Regions from separate parts of the Homo sapiens genome. Here region 1 is linked to region 2. Evidence: fine-mapped QTL for protein levels in blood plasma. A gene starts in region 2. The other region holds a variant in brackets. All regions are shown on one strand. Distances are between the middles of the regions.

Region 1 (10,179 bases), 67 kb before region 2:
CCCCGGAAGATTGTCTTTCAGAGGAGATCTGGAATCCCACTAGGAAAAACATTTGGAATCTGTTTCAAACAGGGACACAAAGCATCTTCAGGCATGACTGTCAACAGCAACTATGCTCCATGCATGCCACTAAAGGGCAGGCAGGAGAAAGAAGAGTAGAAGGAAGCAGGTGGAAAGAGTGAGGAACCAGCCAGCACAAAAAGAAGTCCACGTTATGGAGAGTTGAAACAGCTGTCTGAAGAAGAGGTGGAGGACATGGAGGTCAGCCCAAGAATTCCAGAGGTTATGGTGAAAAAATCTGGACTGAGGAGAGGAGGTGTAGGGAGTAAGAGTTGAGTGTTGATGGATGTCTTAGGTCAGGATCCTTTGAAGCAAGGGAAGTGATGGGGTGCTCTCAAGAGAAGGGGTGTGAGAGAAGCAGGAAGGAGCCAGTAAGGATGTGTCTTCAGTTGGAGACTGACTTCAGCTTGATCTCATGGGAGCTCTGGAGCATGAATCATATCGGAGTTGGTCCCACCTTGAGGAAAGGAGGCCAGCCTTTTGCATTCCCATGACAGCTGGTCATTGGTTATAGGCTGCCCTAGCAGAGTATACCGTGGTCTAACTTCCTGGGTGAGGGAACTCTCAATAGGCCAAGGGCAATTCTCTGCGTTGGAAGGGTACACTTACGTGCTTATGAGCATTTTAACAGCCAACACTCAGGGCAGCTGGAAGACAGGTTCACCTACCTAGCAAAGGGGACCTGGGAGGGGCATCAACAATGTCCACAACATTGGAAGGCTTGGGAGGCATGGATCTGTGGTGGTCATGGATGTAAAAATGGACATAAGGCAGATGGGATTGGTGCTGATGGCGTCTGAGCTGGATTTGCTAGCTGCCCTTCCGTATCTCTTCCAACATGCCCCTCCAACATGCCCGGTGTCCCAGAAGCCTGACCTCTATGGTTCCATTGCCTGGGCTTCTTCACCCTCTGATTTCCAGTTGCCACTGGGACATGCCAACAAGAGATGGCAGGGTGAGACAAGGTCTGGTTCCTTAAAATCTTTGCTTCCTCCAGGCCACAGTTGGACACTGGCTGCATTCTCTTTGAGGCCAGAGCCCTTGTCCTGCAGGGCCTTTCCTATTACTGAGCTCTTGTTGGGTTCCATAACAGGTCCCCACCATCCCCTGATGGTTCCCCTAACTTTCCCCACACCTTTGTGAACAGTCCCTTCAGCTAACCCTCTAATTACTCCTTTGAGTGTCCTGTGAGTTAGGAGAAAGGGGATAATCAGTTCTCTCTTAGGCCAGTGCTTCTCAAGCTTTACCATTCATGCCCACCACCTGGGCATCCTGTTAGATGCAGATCCTGATTCAGCAGTCCTGGGGCAGGGCCTGAGATTCTGTACTTCTAACAAGCTCGCAGTGCCTGTGCTGCTGGGGCAGGAGCCACACTTTGAATAGCGAGGTCCCGGGTGTTTCGTTGCAGTGAAGTAAGTGGTCTCTGGTTGGGGCAAGGAAGAGGGAAGTAGGGGGGGGCGGGGCAAGGAAGAGGGAAGTAGGGAGGGAGGGGGGGGCAAGAGTGCCACCAACTTCCCTAAAATCCTGCTGCAGGAGGTAACATAACTGAGAGTTAGGTTTAGAAAGGGCAGTCTTAGATCTTAGATATAGCAAGTATTAAGACATTATTTTCAAGATTACTAGAGATTTTTTTTTTGAATGGAGCCTTGCTCTGTCCCCCACGCTGGAGTGCAGTGGCATGATCTCAGCTCACTGCAACCTCTGCCTCCCGGGTTCAAGCAATTCTCCTGCCTGATCCTCCTGGGTAGCTGGTACCACAAGCATGCTATCACGCCCGGCTAATTTTTGTATTTTTAGTACAGAAAAGATTTCACCATGTTGGCCAGGCTGGTCTCGAACTCATGACCTCAAGTGATCTGCCTACCTCAGCCTCCCAAAGTGCTGGGATTACCAGTGTGAGCCACTGTGCCCAGCGAGAATTTTTTTCTTTTTTTAAACCTTGGTGCAGTAGCCTAGAAATAAAATACATTCAGCAACTGTTGGGGCAATAATTATTTATTTTAAATATCTCAGAAGCTTTGTGTTAATAGAACCCCCTCCCCCAATTTTCATGAGCATTAAACATTCACCATTCTCAAAACATGCATGACATACAATTTAGATTTACATTGTTTTAATCATTCCCTTTCAACATGAATTTTTAGATTCTATAACATTAATTTAGAGGATACCACACCAATAAGAACTTAAAAACTGATGTGTTGGGTTTATTTCACAGTCCATGTCTACAAATAAAACATTTACCTGTATTAATAATTTGTAATAAATTTATTAATACACTGTATTAATAATTTGTAATAAATTTATTAATACACTGTATTAATATTGCCTATTTGTTGGTATAAATCCAATGTTCTGGGTTATTCCACAATAATAGTTGCTAACACAGTCCCAATGCTGAGACAGAGGTTATTTTATATAGTTAAAAATAGAAAAGTTATCTTGCAGTAGATTAGGATCTAATTTATAAATATATACAGTCTCTGGCTTTTATTCTATTATGTTTTGCTTTGGCTACATGCAGAAAGCATTTTATTCCTATTGTTCTTGACTTCGTCTGATGCACAGGTATTCTAGTTGGTACCTTCAGGCTTTATTTTACCCAACTATGGGGAATAAGATCTTTGATTATGCTGCCTCTCTTTACAGCTACTTCGCCTATTACTTTTCCAAAGCTTGCTGAAAAGAGGTGGCAGGGTAGAAAACATGTTGCGAATGTTTTTTTTCCTTAGGTAAAACACCACCAACAATTTTTCAATCATAAAAAAGATCAGGATTTCCCTCTACCACACAAAAACACTTAGACTGCTATGGTGTCTCAAAATAAATGTGTTGCATTCATCACTTTTTACCACTGATAACTATTTCTAAGAAGGTGATTCATATTAGAAAAATATAACATGTTTCATTTCTGTGCCAACATACAGGAGACTATTGCAGGTGGCATTTAGGCAGCTTCAAATGCCACCTCAGCTGCACACAGCCATGCCTGACTTCCACACAACACACACCACATACTCATCTGTGCCTTTAGGGCTTCAGCTGGCCTCGAAGTTCACATTTGAGATTATTATAAACCAACAGGCTCTCAAACTTGAGTGCATATCAAAATCACCTGGAGGGCTTGTTAAAAACAGAACTGGGCCCTACTCCCAGGGTTCCTGTTTCCTGAGTCCAGGGTGGGACTAGAGAATTTGCATCTCCAACAAATTCCCAGGTGACGCTGATGCTACTGGTCTGAGGACCACACTTTGAGAACCACTGCCATAAACCATCCTCGCTGAGCCACCCTAAGATGATTTAGATGCTACGAAATGGGTTACCCAACAGACAGGATGGATTCTGTTTCCACAGAGCTCCCAGTTTCCACACTAGAGAACAGATCAGCACAGATCATTTCATATTCTTTCACAGATTCTTCTGCTTCTCCATCAAGTATGTGCCCATACTTGATAACCTGGTGTTCGGCCCTCTGAAAACATTTCTTTTTTTTTTCTCCCGTGTCATTCTCTCTTACTGGAGTTCAGAGAAATGGTTAATCCTGAGAGAGGAAACCAAGGACTGAGTTTTGTTAGTCCTGGCAAAAATTCCAAGACATTCCTAGGCACAGACTGGTCAAGGACAACTAGGCCACTGCTTCTGAGAGGAAATGGTACTTACTGGTACAAAGCTAACTTTGTTTTTAAAAAATAATGGCAAATCCTTAACCATGAAATATTGAAAATAAAATAAAATAAATGACAGACTGTCCCACAGAATGGAGGGAACAGAGGGGGATGTGTGTTTCTTCACTCCTCAACTCCCCCAACAAAATGTCAGTCTTAAATTCTAATTTCAAGAAACAATGAAAAAAGAAACCTCAAAGCTTCTAGACTGTGTCCTGGCTCTTGGTTCATCTGCCCTCAGCAACATCACAACATTAAAAGGAAACAACCCATTATTCTTCCATATTCCTCTCCCAATAATTCAATATCCATGTCCTAGATAATACTGCTCTCATACACTTGGTTTATCATGACTATTTATAAAATTTCAGGGCATGAAGCTGGTGATTTTCTTTCTTCAAAAAGGTAATACTGTGATGTGGCTCACACCTGGAATCCTAGCACTTTGGGAGGCTAAGGAGGGCAGATCACTTGAGGTCAGGAGTTCTTGACCAGCCTGGCCAACATGGTGAAACTCCATCTCTACTAAAAATATAAAAAAATTAGCTGGGCATGGTGGTGCATGCCTGTAATCCCACCTACTTGGGAGGCTGAGGCAGGAGAATTGCTTGAACTTGGGAGGCAGAGGTTGCAGTGAGCTCAGATCGGGACACTGCACTCCAGCCTGGGCAACAGCATGAGACTCTGTCTCAAAAAAAAAAAGATAATACTGTGATGAAGGAAGAGGCGATTTTTGACCTCACACTGGAAACAGGGCCCAAGCACAGGTCTGGGATTAGTGTAGTCAATTCCAGGGCAGATGGTGGAGGAGACATTGACATGAGTGATGATGTCACCAAAGCCTCCCTGCCCTCCCAGGTGCTCCAGAGACACTTCTCAGCCTATAAAACAAAGGGCTGAGGAAAAAATGATGAGCCTCAGTCCACCTGCGTCATGCTCTAGTGAATTATCGTGTGATGTGTCACAGTTATTTTCCTCCCAAGTGGCTTTGGGAGAACCCACTCCAAAGGTGCCTAGACCTTCTCCATCTCGATCTGCTGGTGGTAGTGCCGAGCCTGCCGCTGGCCAACATTCAGCTTGTACACAGAGCTCTTGTGCTGGCACTTGCGGTAGCCCCACACCATCCCCACACCTGCCAGGAGCAGCAGTAGGCACAGGACGGTGACAATGGTGGCGATCACAGGGCCTCTGCTGAGGCCAGGACATCCGTCCCCCACACACGACTCCAAGGTGGGATGAAGCTCCTCACTTGCACCTGGCCCGGGGCCTTCCTGTCCAAAGAA[G/T]TCTTCAGACAGCAGGTATGGGAAGCTATCCTGGATCTCAGGAACAGTGGTTTCTACTGGAGGCTGGGTGGTTGCCATGATCGTTGAGGGGATGTGGTTAGGTGTCTGCTTGACAGTGTTCACTGTTAATATCTCCAGGGTGGAGCTGGTGAGCTCATAGGACAGGGTGGCCATGGGAGATTCCTCTGTGATGAATCTCCAGGGTAGAGTTGACTGGTACTTCGTCAAGTCACCATCCCCAATGCCCTCAGTCTCGGAAGCATTCACGGGTCTGAGCGCCAAAGCTTCCACATCTAGCATTTGAGATGGAAGAACTGAACTATGGGTCATGCCCTCGCTTGGTGTGAGGGTGCTACTCTTGGGCTTCTTAACTTCCACAAGAATGGGCTGATCAGGAGTAACTAGGACGTTTTCATCCAGCCCTACTGACCCATCCCCTCTGTCCCCATCTTCTTCCTCTTCTGCCTCTGTCTTCCTCCAAGCCCCCTCTGTCACAGGGTAGCCATCTAACCAGGACTCATCACTGCTGCTCACCACTGGATCTCCTGCCTTGCTGTCATTCTTGCCCACAAATGGCCCCGAGGGACCATCAGTGTTGCCGTAGATCACCTTGGTTTCAGGTTCACCTGGGACCAATTTTACACCACTGTGGTTGTCTCCAGCAGAAAACTGCTTTTTGGTGTCATCATCCACCTCCTTTTCCAACCCAGGCTTGTGGAAAGCCTCAGCAGGAAACCAGAACAAGTGCTTCTGGAGCAGCCGTGATCCTGGTGAATCTGCGGGGACACTGCTCCCAGCACCAGGCAAGCCTGTGGTTGGCACAAAGACTTTATCCCGGGCTATGTTTTCTCTCCCCACAGAAATGGAGACCAGACGGTCCTGTTTTGGAGCCTCCTCAGAGGAGTCTCCCTGACCCCTGTCCTCATCTGCCTCTGTCCGGGAATCCTCCATGAGCTCTCTGAATGACACAGATCTGTCATCAGGGAAGTTATCTTCATAGTCAATGTGTGCCTCAGCCTCATCTGGAAGAAAAGAGGGAAAAAACCTCATTAGCTCCAAAGGCACAGAGCCAGTATAGAACATAAGAAAAGGAAATTAAAAGCATAAAGGCTGGGACAGAATAAATAATACTGTTATTATTCACAGATGATATGACTGTGTATCATAGATAAACCCAAATAATCTACATATGAATATTACAAGTAACTAAAATTTAACATCTGAGCTTAGGCCGGGCATGGTGGCTCACACTTGTAATCCCAGCACTTTGGGAGGCCTAGGCAGGTGGATCACTTGAAGCCAGGAGTTCGAGACCAGCCTGGCCAACATGGCGAATGCCCATCTCTAATAAAATACAAAAAAATAGCCAGGCATGGTGGCATATGCCTGTAATCCCAGCTACTCAGGAGGATGAGACATGAGAATCGCTTGAACCCGGAAGGCGGACGTTGCAGTGAGCCAACATCGTACCACTGCACTCCAGCCTGGGTGACAGAGTGAGACTCAAAAACAACAACAACAAAAACAACAACTCAAAAACAACAACAACAAAAAACATGTGAGTTTATTAGGGATACTAGGTCTACAGTAAATATAAACATCAATTGTATTTCTAAATATTGTCAATAAACAGAAAATTAAAATTTAAAAGGATGCTATTTACAATAACATTAAAAAAACCAAACACATAGGAATAAATCTAACAAAAGATGTTCAAGACTTCTACATGGAATGATATAAGACATTGCTAAGCAAAATTAAAGAAGACTTAAATGAATGGAGGAATAGACCATGATCATGTAGTAGAAGGCTCAAGATCATTAAGTTGGCAATTCTGTCCAAATCGATCTATACAGATCTAATACAATTCCAATAAAAATCTCAGACATTAACTGAATGTTAAAGTTTATGGAAATGCAATGGATGGAAGTTTATGGAAATGCAATGTAAGAATAGACAAGGCGATATTGAAAAAGAAAAAGCCGGAAGACATATGCAAAACATTTCAAGATTTACTATAAAACTGCATTACCTTTTAAGGCTGTGGTATTGGCACAAGGACAGATAACTGGATTACATTAAAATGAAGATCCTCTGTTCATTAAAAGCTACCACAAAGAGAGTTAAAATGCAAGGCAGAGTTAGAGAAGCTATCTGCAACACATATGACCTCCAAAGGGCTTGTATCCAGAATTTAAAAAGGACTCCCACAAATCTATACTAAGTAGACAGACAAACCATAGAAAAATTGGCAAGATAGTTGACTTGGGACATCACCAGAAAGATATCAGATTAGTCATTAAACATGTGGAAAGATGCTCAACCTCACTAGTAAGAGAGAAATGTTAATTATAGTCATAATGAGATACCACTGCATAGCACCAGAATGGCTAAAATTAAACAGACCGACAATATCAAATGTTAACTAGGATATACAGCACTGTTAGTGGGAGTGTGAACTGGAACAACCACGATGGAAAACTGGGCATCTCTACTAAAATTGAACATATGGATGCTCCATGACACAGCAATTCCACTCCTAAATATATACACTTAACAGTAATGTGTGCATATGGGTACCAAAAGACACGCCTAAGAATGTTCATAATAGTAAAAAACTGGAAGCAATTCAAATGTCCATTAACTGGTACATCAGTTATGGTATACTCAATGCAAATCTGTACATCAATAAACATGAACCAACCACTGCTTCCCACAACAAAATAGATGAATTGCATGGCCATAATGTTGAGCCAGGCACAAAAGTGCACACTCTGTGTTGATTCTATTTATATAAAGTTTAAAAACAGGCAGAATTAATCTATGGATGTCGGAACTCAGGATGGTAGTTACACTTGGGTAGGAGAGAAGGGGTGATGACTGGGTATGGTACAAACAGGACTTTTAGGGTGCTGGCAATATTCGATTTCTTCACCTGTGTCAAGGCCTAAATATCAGTGTTTATTCTTGATAATTCATTGGTTTGTTGCCTTATGATTCGTATGTATTTTATAATTAAGTTCAAAAATGCATCTTTTTTTTTTTTTGAGAGAGAGTCTCGCTCTGTCTCCTAGGCTAGAGTGCAATGGTGCAATCTAGGCTCACTGCAACCTCCGCCTCCCGGGTTCAAGCGATTCTCCTGCCTCGGCCTCCTGAGTAGCTAGGATTACAGGTGCACACCACCACACCCAGCTAATTTTGGTATTTTCAGTAGAGACAGGGTTTCACCATGTTGGCCAGGCTGGTGTCAAATTCCTGACCTTGTGATCCGCCCATCTCGGCCTCCCAAAGTGCTGGGATTACAGGCATGAGTCACCGCGCCCGGCCCCCAAATGCATCTTTTAAAACACTGATTTGCTCTCTGTAAAACTTCCAAGTCATGAGATGATGCTGTAAAGTATTCTGAATTCAACTGAATAAGAAGCAATAGAGCCCCACAACTAGGAGACCAGAATGTAAGGACAGCCCGATGAGAGGGGAATCAACTGGTCAGGAAAGCTCAAGAAGCTGGTGTCCTCAGAAGACAGCAGCAGCCCTTTGACCTTCCCCTCTCTCAATGGTCTTTGAAAGCCAAGTCCTACTGGAAGATACACTTAAATTATTAAAACAGACTGCTTCTCCCACTTAACTTTCAACTTCGGAAGAACAAAATGCACAGAGCTCCAGAGCCAAGGTCTAGATGGAATGCTGAGGTGTCATGTGGTGCATTCCTGGGCTCTGAAACTAGATTAGTGGGTATCTGGCTTATTTCTAAAGGCTGTTAGAGAATAAGACTCTGTATCTTGCTTATTTAATGACTGACAGAGTTATAAATAAAAGTTAACAATCTTTTCTGATCTGCTCCTGACATGTAAGCCCATTCACTTTACATGTGTCCTCAGTCAGAAAAGGGAAACAGTGGATGAAGAGCAAACATCACTGACAAATATCAAATGCATGCGTGTTTTATGCTTAGAAAAGGACAGCCCAATCACACCCCATTGTGTCCTGTTCATAAAACCTCACACAAAAAACATATCAGATGGCTGGACCATTCTAATGAGCCTTGTAGAATTCACATACAGGCTCCCAGGGCTCAGTCAGGCCCTTCACATTCCCTGTTATATCCTCATTTCAAAACCTGCACTGACCCACTCCTTCATTCAACAGACCTCACTGAGTGCTGACTATGTGCTAGAGTTTGGGATCACTGGTGAACAGGATAAATACTCCCTCCCCCGTTGGAGCATATGGGACAGAATCTCATGGTCTTGCATCCTATAGGGTTGAACTTCAAAGATTTTGTGTGCATAAATTTTCACCCAACATTCTGAATGGGCGTTAGGTTTTGCATTGAAGTACTGTCCTTCCTTCAAAAAACAACAAAATGAAATGAATGCCACTATGACAGAACTTTTCACTACAATTTACCCAAAACATACAGACAAGTCACACTGAGATTTAAGAAAGTCATGACGTATATCTTTGACCTCAGGATAAGGTGGTTAGATTGCTTGTGCACATGTGTGTACTTACTGGCTGTGGAAGACAGACTGCAATAATGGCCACAAATCTCCACTTTTCCCTGCATCAAGTCCTTTTGCAATGTGACTTTGCACCTCTCTTCCTATGAAAAGATGGGGCCCATTTTTTCATCTCTAGAATCTGGGCTGACCTTGTCCCTTGTTTTGACCTACTGAACGCAATGAAAGTGTTGCATACCTTTGCTCTCTGCCTCGGAGCCCTGCCAGCTGCCATGTGAACAAACCTGGATGCTGAAGGATAAAAGACCCCATGAAGGAGAGGTAAACGTCCCAACTGAGGCCACCGTAGATTAGCCAGCTGTGGCTGACCACATTCACCTGAGTGAGCCCAGCCCAAACTGCTGACTCAAAGAACTGGAGCAGAATAAATTGTTGTTTCATGCCACTAAGTTTTTGGGGATGGTCTATTATGCAGAAAAAGCTAACTAACACACTAGCAATGAGCTGCTTGGGGAGCAGGCCCCAAGGCATTGTGTCCCTAAAGTAGAACAGTGCTTATCTACTATAGGTATTCTTATAGGTATTCTTGAGTGAGTGAAAGAATAAATGGTTCTGGAAGGAAAACAAGGAAAAGTCTGCAACAGCTCAGATCCCAAGCTTCTCTTCATTGCTACCTTAAAACTGTTCAGCACTGGGATCAGTTTCCAG
Region 2 (10,179 bases):
CCTATACAACAGGTTGCTTCCCTTCTCTCTGTCCCTTGCCTTAAGATATTACCAGGCCCCTTTCACAATAAATTCATTTGTGTCTGCTGTACTTCTGTCCTACTGCACAAGAAAACAGGGATGATGTCTGGTACACCTTGGCTTCCTATAGCACATTAATATATGGACATGTAGTGGGCCTCAAAGAATGTGTGATTAATGGGGGGATGGGAACCTGAATTCAAGCAGAGGTGAAAGCCCAGGCTGAAGGCAAATGAGAATTTTAAGCAAGGAAACCACGGTACCGGAGGGAGCACTGAGGTCCCCAGGAGCCTCCTGGAGGAATGAAGCAATGCCTTGGGTGGCCCTATCAAGTTAAGCTAAAGGCAGGGGAGAAAACACCTACTTAGAATGAGACACTTTACTTCCATCTGTCACCAACTTTTTCATAATATATCAGTGATTGGACTAAGACACAACTAAGACACAAGTCATCTGCTTGCAAAAGACTAAGACACAAGTCATCTACTTGCAAAATTATTATAATAAATATAATAATTCCACAGCTTTGGAACCAAAAGTTATAATAAAAATACAAAAAAAAATTTTAAATAAACACTTCCATAGGTGACTGGCACTCCTACATTTAACTACAAAAAGGTAGTATTAACAAAACTACAAGGAAAAACAAAAAAATCCACAATCCTTGAGGAAATTTTAAACTACTATCCCTCTCAGTAATTGTTAAAACAGAAAACAAAATTAGCACTCTTGATGTAAGAACCTATGTGCACTACTGCATACCAAACTACAGAATACACATTCATTTTAGGCACACACAGAACATTTGTAAAACTGATCAAATACTGAGCTATAAAGCAAATCTAAAAAAACCTCAAAAGACAAAAATCATACAAAGCATGCCTTTTAGACTACAACAAAGCTAAAATCACTTATTTTATATATGAAACACTTATATAGTGTTTACTATGGACTAGATGTTGTTCAAATTGCTTTACAAATACTCATTAAATTAATTCTTATGACAACTCTATGATATAGGTGGTATTATCATCCTCATTTTATAGTTAAGGTTTAGTATTAATGCTTGTCCGAGATCACACAGCAGAGATACAGAACCAGGCAGTATGGCTCCGTTAGTGATTTTAATCACTTGGTTATACTGCCTCTCAATAACAAAGCAATAACTAGGAAAATCCCCTTGTGCATGGAAATTACAAAATATACTTCTAAATAAACTGTGTTCAAAGAAGAAATCCCAACTGAAATAAAACATGTCAACTCAAGGGCCAAAAACTTATGGAGAAACTAAAGTAGTTTAAGAGAAATTTATAGCCTCAGATCTCACATTATTAATACCAAAAAAGTATGGTTGAGAATCAATGATCTAAGTTTCTAGCTCAAAAAACAAACACAAAAGTCCCACAAAATCAAATCTTCTAACGTAGAAGGAGGAAATAATACAGATAGAGCAGAAATCAGTAAAACGGAAAGCAGACACACAATCAAGAAAATAAAGCCAAAAGTTGCTTTTTTCAAATGAATAATAAAACGGATAAACCCCTACTAAGACTGATCAAGACAAAAAAAGAGAAAACACAAAGTACCAATATCAAGAATGAAAGGGAACATCACTACAGATCCCGTGGACCCTGAAATGATAATTAGAGATTATTACATTGTATATGCCACATTAGACAATCTAAATGAAGTGGGGGAAAAACTTTAAAAAATAAAACTTAGCAACATTGACACAAAATTAATTTTAAAATCTGAATACTTCTTTATCTACCAAACAAATTAAATTCATTATTTAAAATCTTCCTACAAGAAAACCTTCAGACACAGATGATCTCACACCAAAACAAACAAACAAAAGCCCTCACCCGCAGAAACCCTTTCAGAGTTAAAGAAGGAGCAACTTTACAATTTGGTTTAGGAACCATCATACGTTTGATATCAACACTTGGCAAAGATATTATAAAAAATGAAAATTACAGGCTAATATGTTTCATAAACATAGATTCAATAATCCCAAACCAGCTTCCCTCACTCCAGGCTCAGTTCTAGGTCTTCTTGCTGTAAAATTTTTCCTTAGGATTCTGCCCACGCACATGATTTCAAAGACCATCCTTATACAGATGACACGTTTTTAGAAATAGTTTCTCTCCAAATCTATCTCTTCAAACATCTGTAATTCATCATACTTAAGCTGAGCATTTCTTCTTCTTCCTCCCGTCACCATAGCACACAAATAACTAAATGTAGGAACTGGTGGCAGCTAAGAATTTAGTACCAAAAAGAATCCTTTGATAATATAGCTTATAACTCTTCCTGGTTCTAGTATAAAAGTTGGAGCTCATAAAATTGAGTTTACTATAAGGAAGTATACCTATAATTGTCCACTGAGGAAGTGGGGAAAGAAAAGGAAGGAGAATGAAGAAAAGGAATCATTTCTGGCAAGCAGTAACAAAGAATCATGTGCTCTGGTGTTGTCCTTACTTTCTCTTTGACCAGTGACATTTCTGCCTTTAATTTTCTATGACCCGTATCAAGCTAGACAGGCACAAAATATTGATCCTTATCCACATGGCATTCCACTTAAACAGTTATAATGGGATGAAACTCTAAAACCTTATGGATTGCAAAAATATTTATTTAAAAGGAATTAAAGTTGGCACAATATATCTTGTTCAAAGATTAATATTAGCTCCAATTTATTCTACTTGCATTCTTTAAAATCAGCTTAATTTTCATGGCTCAATGTCAGTCAAAAAACACTACAGTGAAGAATTATCAGTAAACTGCTAATAGGTATGGGATTCTTTTGAGGAGTGATGGAAATGTTCTGGAATTAGATGCATGCAAACCATGGTTTTCACAACCTAATGAATATACTAAAACCCACTTAACTGTATATTTTAAAATGACAAATTTTATGTGAAATACATGTCAATTAAAAAAATTAGCAGTGGTTACTAACAGCCTTCAAAGTTAAAAATGTTTTGTCTCTAACACTCTCTCTGAGGATATGGAGAAATACGACATTCATCCTTAATTAGGAACGGAGAGCTTTTCAAGCCTGCACTTAAAACAGAGAGCACTAAAAACTCTACGACCTAGACGGTTTTTTCCTTGGCTTTCCCCTTTTCCTGACAACCATGCTTTTTTTTTTTTTCCCCATGTCTTCTAGTTTCACTCAATATCGTTGGCTAAACAAGAATCACATTTTAAAATATACAACGCATCCTAAATTGACGGAGGGCTTTTCTCTTTTATCAGTCTAATTCGTCCTAAGCTAGAACTACCTCATGGGTGTGAGAACTGCTGGCTTTAAGCTTGCTTCCTTCAGATGCTCCTGTACCAAGTCAGCGGGATTTTGTTCTAATATGAAAACACAGCTGAATTAGCTTTTCAAAAGGGAATGGATACAGAGCTCCAATCCTGCTCATTTTAGGGCAAGTATTACAAGCTAAATTCAGGCTGAAAAACCAAGCAAACGAACAAGAAGTGGATCAATTCTCAGAGAACCTGCCATAATCTGGCCCTTGCCCACTTCTCTACCTCATGTCTCAAGACGTCCCCTCGCCTCCAGGTACTTTGCTTTATCATTTGTCCCGTTTTTCCTGTCACTCAGAGACAGCCTTTGCACGTGCTTTTCCCTCTGGCCAGGCCATTCTCTCTCTCTTAGCCTCGCTGATTCCCACTCATCTTTCACGTCTTCCCGGACCAAGCCAAAATATCCGAGGGAGTTTTCTAACCATCGGCGGTGTCCTCAGGGGCACATTAATAGACGTTGAGAAACTGAGGGACGGCGGAAAATCACCCCTTAGCAGAGGAGGTTCTAGGGCACCTTAGAGGTGATTTCATTCGAGCTTTCTTGGAGACCTTAGGAAAGCCAGCGGCGGGACTGCGGGACCTACGCGCTCGGCGCTAAGGGAGGGTCCAGGCACCAGGCGGGCGTTTGGGCGCACGGGCACGCGGAGACTTGGTGGGCCAGGAGAGGGATGCTGGGTCGCAGGACCGCGGCTCGTTCGTTCCTCTCAGGCTTGCGCTTGCCGCTTGCCGGGCCGGTCAGAGGGAGCAGCCCCGGCGAGCTACGCCCTCCCTGCCCGGACCCCACGCTCCACCCCCCGCCCCGCCGCCTCCCGCACACTCACCATCCGCCCGCACCGAAAGGCGCGGCAGACCGAGCAGGAGCAGCGCCGCCGCCCAGAGCCCGGGGAGGCGTCTGTGCCAACGGGCAGGCGGGCTGGGTCCCTCGGCAGTCATGGTCCGGGAGTGCGCGGGCCAGCGGACTCGGGTGAGGGCTCTGGCTGCGTTTGGGGTTGCCCAGGCCACTGCCCAGCGTGCGCCACTCGGCTCTGCGCTCTGCGCTCGGCTCACGAATCGCAGGCTTCGCGCCGGGCGCGCCGAGAGGGAGGAGCGCGGAGAGCCGGGGGAGGCTCGGGACGCAGAGCCGGAGCGCCTGGGCCGCCGAACTCCCGGGGGTCTTCTCTGTGGCGCCGAGGAGGCGGCTGTAACCCGGCTCCGCCTTCGCGCTGGGCACCTGGAAACCTCGGTGCCAAAAGGGGCTGCGCTGGGCCGCGCGCTCTGCGGGTACAGCGGGGCGGAGGGCGAGGGCGCAGGGAGGCGGGGAGAGTAGCTAGCCGGCCGCAAGGAGCCCCCGCCCGTCTGGGGGACCCTTGGCGAGAGGGTGACGCAGTCTGACAGGCGGAGCCCCTCCGGCAGGGCCGTTAGACAACGAGTGTCTAACTCTGTCCTCGGCCTCTACTTTTCAACTGGCCTCCTCCCCCTCCCCACCAACACTCTTTTTTTTTTTTTTTTTTAATGAAGAGAGGAAAATCTAAGTTACCTACCACCCTCACTCTAAGGTGTGAAACGCATGGAATAGCGAAATTCCTCTTTCCTAAAAGCGAAGTTTGAGAGTCACTGAGGAAAGGATATCTTCAGGAACGCTTCCTTCACCACTTTTCCTGGTACGCTAGTATTTCTCAAGGAGCAGTAAGAGGGCTAGTGAGATTGTCACCATTATCACCCACCTCCCAAATCAGGGCTTTTTGACCTCGAAAGGGTCTGAGATTCGGACTCTGTCGGTCTGGTCTGGGAATCTACACTCTAAGTTAAAGTGTCCCAATGGATTCTGCTGCAGGGGTCCCTGTTTGACTTGATTCCTTCTTCCTGCTCGCCCCTAGCCTGTCTCCCTACCACCAGCCCTGTTCAGTGAAAGAAGAACTTGCTTTCTTCATAGGTAGAGTAATAAAGATCAGTATTGTTATAACTGAGGCATGCGCGGTGCTCTACAATTTGCAAATCCCTTTTATATTGATGTATGGGTCAACAAACATCTATTGAGTGCCCATACATGCCTGTCCCTGTGCTAGACCCTGAATGTGGCTGCAATCGGTCCTAAAAATGTTCACACTTAAATAAAATATACTTACAATTGAAAAAGTGATTGGTGCTAAAGGGGCAGATGATTATCCTCATTTAATGAACCAGGACACAGACATTGAAATAATTTACTTTCTTTTCACAGTAAGAACTTGGATTTGAATCCACATCTGATTTACTACAGGTGTCATTTTTCAGCTTGCATTAATTGTTGAAATGTACTGAAAAGATTTCTTCTCTCCTTATTACTTCCCATCAACTACAAGGGCTACTATTAATGAGTAATTATTTTGGATAATTAAACTTTGCTTTCAAAATACAAATACTGGCCGGACACGGTTGCCCAGGCCTGTAATCCAAGCACTTTGGGAGGCGGAGGCCGACCAATCACCTGAGATCAGGAGTTGGAGACCAGCCTGGCCAACATGGTGAAATTTCCATCTTTACAAAAATACAAAAATTAGCCGGGCGTGGTAGCTGTTAATGCAGTGAGGTGTTAAATGCAGTGAGGCCTGACAAGTATAAATGAATTTACTTAGCTCCTTCCCTTTTTTTTTTTTTTTTTTTTTTTTTTGAGATAGAGTCTCGCTCTGTTGCCAGGCTGGAGTACCGTGGAGCGATCTTGACTCACTGTAACCTCAGCCTCCCAGGTTCAAGCGATTCTCCTGCCTCAGCCTCCCGAGTAGTTGGGACTACAGGCGTGCACCACCACGCCCAGCTAATTTTTGTATTTTTAGTAGAGACGGGGTTTCACCATGTTGGCCAGATGGTCTCGATCTCTTAACCTCGTGATCCGCCGGCCTCGGCCTCCCAAAGTGCTGGGATTACAGGCATGAGCCACCACACCCGGCCAGCTCCTTCCCTTTTAACAGTTAGCTGGTAACCTAAGGAGTGAGACTTCACATGTCTGGACTGGAGGGGTCATTTTAAAGCCTGGTTAGTGCTGAGAACGGAGGGGAGGGATCAGAAGGTACCTGCCAAGAGCTACCAACTCACTCACTCAGGAGCTTTGCCTAGGAACATTTTAAAAACAGTCAATTGAATATTACTACTTAATTCTCCTAACATTTTCAAGATTATGCTTATTCACAATTGTCTTGGCCTGTCCTGATGTGAGGAGATGGCATGCTGTAAGGGTAATTGGTATGGTTGCTTTAGAAAACCGGCTGTTCCATCTAAACATATACCTGCCTTAGGACCCAGAAATTCCTCTCCTAGGATTATATCCAAAAGAATGAGAACCTATATTCACAAAAATATTTGTGCACAACTGTTCATAGCAGCTTTATTTGCAATGATCAAAAACTAGAAGGAATTCGGATATCATCAACAGATGAATAGAAAAACAAACTGTCATATTCACACAATAGAATACTATTCGACAACAGGAATGAACTACTGAATGAACTACTCAACACGTGAAAGAATCTCAAGGATAGCATACAGAGTGAAAGAAGTCTTACACAAAACAATTCATACTGTGTAATTCCATTTATATGAAGTTCAAGACAGGACAAAACTAATCTGTGGTGAAAACAGTCAACACAGTGGTTGCCTTTGATAGAACGGGAACACAAGGGAACATCTGAAGTGATGAAAATGTTCTATTCCTGATGGGGATGGTGGTCACATGAGTGTATATGTTTGTCAAACATCCCTAAACTGTACACTTGAAATCTTTGTATTTAATTGAATACTTATACTTCAGTAACAAATACTTTAAAAATCAGAATTTCAGTCCTTGCACTAAAAAATAAAGAAGGTTTAATAGAAGGCCAAGTGCGGTGGCTCACGCCTCTAATCCCAGCACTTTGGGAAGTGGGTGGATCACGAGGTCAGGAGATTGAGACCATCTTGGCTAACACAGTGAAACCCCATCTCTACTAAAAATACAAAAAATTAGCCAGGCGTGGTGGCACGTGCCTGTAGTCGCAGTTACTTGGGAGGCTGAGGCAGGAGAATTGCTTGACCTTCGGAGGCGGACATTGCAGTGAGCCAAGATTGTGCCACTGCACTCCAACCTGGGCGACAGAGCAAGACTCTGTCTTTAAAAAAAAAAAAAAAAAGTTTAATAGAAGAGAGTTTGATGAAAGGACCACATGCAGTGATGTGGACAGGACCGAGAGAACCAATAAGGGGTGGTGAAACTCCTGGGTCTAGCAACAGCTGGAAGCTGTAGCCATGGTGAGGCCTGAAGGTGTGAGGGAAGGTTGAGGTGTTACCAAACCAGCAACAGCTGTGGCCATGAAAGAGGCCGCCTGAAAAAAAGGATACCCATAGGTAGAAAAATCAAGATGCTGCCACTGGTCTGGTAGGGAGGGAGTGAGGAAGAAAGACCCTGACCTCTCTCTCCTTCTATCCTTGATATTCCTCTTGATACCTTCTATTGGCTGAACCATTTAAAAGCTAAAGGGTAAAGAAGCACAGGTGCAGTGGTCCTTAGAAGTCACCTTGTTAGGGTGCAGGGTTGGACAAAGAAGGTTAAAGAGTGGATCTGGAATGGCAAATGGGAAACAACCAGCACAGCTCATCTACTTTTTTCTTTCATTTGATTAAGAATAACTAGAAATAAAACAGGAGAAACACAAAATCCTGTCAGTCCTCTCTTGTATGACCTGGGAATAATGTCAACTCAGTCAAATTTCCACTTGGAGCTAAACTGTGATATTAACCATCAGTGGTTACATTCACATAAATACAGTTTCACATAAACAGAAAAGGGGAGAAGTAAACAGTTGTCACAAAATATAGATTCTACTGTCCCCACTTCTGTAACTGGTCATGAGGCCTTATTTGACAATCATTCCAATGTTTCCCTCTACTCTCTGAGCATTTTGGCCTGCATGAATTTTTTTTTAACTGATGACAGGGGCCTAAAATTTCATTCCCGCCAAAGACTTATCTTTATTAGTTTGCCAGTGACCATAATTATTGGATATGGGAGTCCTCTGAGGTCTAGACATAGTCATCCCATTATGAAGCAGGAATCCAATTTCCCCTTGGTAATCAGGTAATCAGGATCCATCACCCAGTCAGTAAACTAACCTTCTTTTCTGCCTCTTGGTTCTTCAACATGAGGACTACAAAATTACAAGAGAAAAGTCTCAGCTTCCAATTGACAAGGAAGCATTTCTGTCGTGGGCACCCAAACCTCCCAACTCACCAATCTTTTTTTTTCTTTCTTTTTTCATCCACTACTAAGAGTTGTATCCCAACTCACCAATCTAAAGGATGTGGGGATATTATGCAAAACTTTGCTAGATGGGTTACTATATGTAATAGAGAGGTCCCACTTTGACCTTGGTCCTTAAACCAGTCTCTTATGTCTATGAGAGAAATTACACCACATATTGGCTACTGGTTTAAGGCATATATTGTAACCGGAGTGAATGTCCCAAATTCCCGGGGTGCTGTCTTCTAGCTAGTACCTTAACTGTGACTTATCTTTCTGTCAAGCCACATGCTTCTAGGTAAATATCATGAAATGAGTCTATTGCCCCACCGATTTCTACAAAATCAGTTTCTTGATTAGAGATGATGTAATGTGTGCTGCTATGGCCATGGGTGAGAAGACATTCTATATACATCTACATATAGTGGTGCTAGTAGAAGAAAGCCAGACAAAGAAGGCAAAGTCAGATTTAGGATAAGAATTTATTTCAACAAATACAGCAAGAAAATAAAAGAATTTATTCCAATAAGGACAAATAACTGCAGTCTCTATGAAAAAAAAATCCAATTTAAATAACCTTTCTCTACGTAGTCAACAGGAGAGGCTGGCTAGGGAATAATGCCATATGAAGACTCACGGTGCACTCTCTCTCTCTCTCCCTCTTTCTCTCTCTCTCTCTACACACACACACACACACACACACACACACACACACACACACACGCTGTGCCCATCCCAGGAGAACCACACTGACATCCTTGCTATCAGTCTCCTAGTTCTGAACTTTTCAAGTCATTAACTGATGATTAGGCATTGTCCATAAATCAGTGAAGATCCATAAATGAAGCCATCTCTCCTTTCATGTAAACCAAAGCTCCACCCATTGGGAGGATTCTCTTTTGCTAGTTTTTACTTTTCAATAGAAAAATGTTACTCTAATAAAATATACATAGCATTTATTATTGTGACCATTTTAAGTATACAAATCAGTGGCCTTAAGAACATTTACATTGTTGTGAAACCGTCACCACCGGCCACCTCCAAGTTTTTCATCATCTCAAACGGAAACTCTGTACCCGTTAAACAATAACTCCCTATTCCCTCCTCCCTCTAGCAGCCAGTAACCACTGTTCCACTTTCTGTCTCTATGAATTTGACTATTCTACGTACCTTATATATGTGGAATCACATAATATTTGTCTTTTCATGCCACTGTTGTTTTTAGTGCTATACCAGTGTGAGGCTAACTAGTCCTACCCCATAGACATCCAAGCATAAAGCAGGTTCAAGTTTTTTCTCTTCCATTAAGTAAAACTCCCCATGAGGCCATAGGTGTGGGTTGAGGGAAAGGCAGTAAAGCAGTGGAAGCAAGTGCCATAGGAGTCTAAGCCTCTTGCTCATGTGATTTACATGTTCATTCCGAGCCTACTCTTGTATGTACCATTTTCATTTGATAGTAGAATTCTGCTTTGTGATTCAAAATACCTCATTCACGAGACCAACTAAGGCGTCACACTCATGCGGTGTCTTGTGGTCAAGCAGTCAATCTCTACCAGGGCCAGTAGCAAGGTTGGAAGTGCTTATCGTATGGTGAATAATTGACTGTACACGAA

Which allele goes with the higher level. Alleles are on the strand shown, and positions count from the first base shown. The strength of an association depends on the size of the effect and on how common the allele is.
For the plasma level of the protein whose gene starts at base 4,285 in region 2, G is the low allele of the variant in region 1 and T is the other (weak association).

The links. PIP is the posterior inclusion probability: the model's chance that the variant is causal. Protein levels are from antibody-based Olink assays in UK Biobank. Linkage for the fine-mapping came from a reference panel and not from the study's own genotypes, which makes the PIPs less certain.
Region 1: its variant is fine-mapped to the plasma level of the SUSD5 protein (UK Biobank, PIP above 0.99). The variant lies in the coding sequence of SUSD5. If it changes the protein, the assay may bind it differently, which can mimic a change of level.

The regions. Positions count from the first base shown.
Region 1 is chr3:33,148,004-33,158,182 of GRCh38, forward strand. SUSD5 (sushi domain containing 5) reads right to left here. Exons shown (of 5, transcript NM_015551.2): 5 at 2,040-6,030. The coding sequence ends at 4,739. Among named protein-coding and RNA genes, the nearest start is that of CRTAP, 39 kb to the left of the region's middle. RefSeq lists an enhancer at 4,812-6,011. The variant G/T (reference allele first, on the strand shown) is at 5,009.
Region 2 is chr3:33,214,526-33,224,704 of GRCh38, forward strand. SUSD5 (sushi domain containing 5) reads right to left here and starts at 4,285. Exons shown (of 5, transcript NM_015551.2): 1 at 4,161-4,285. The coding sequence starts at 4,272.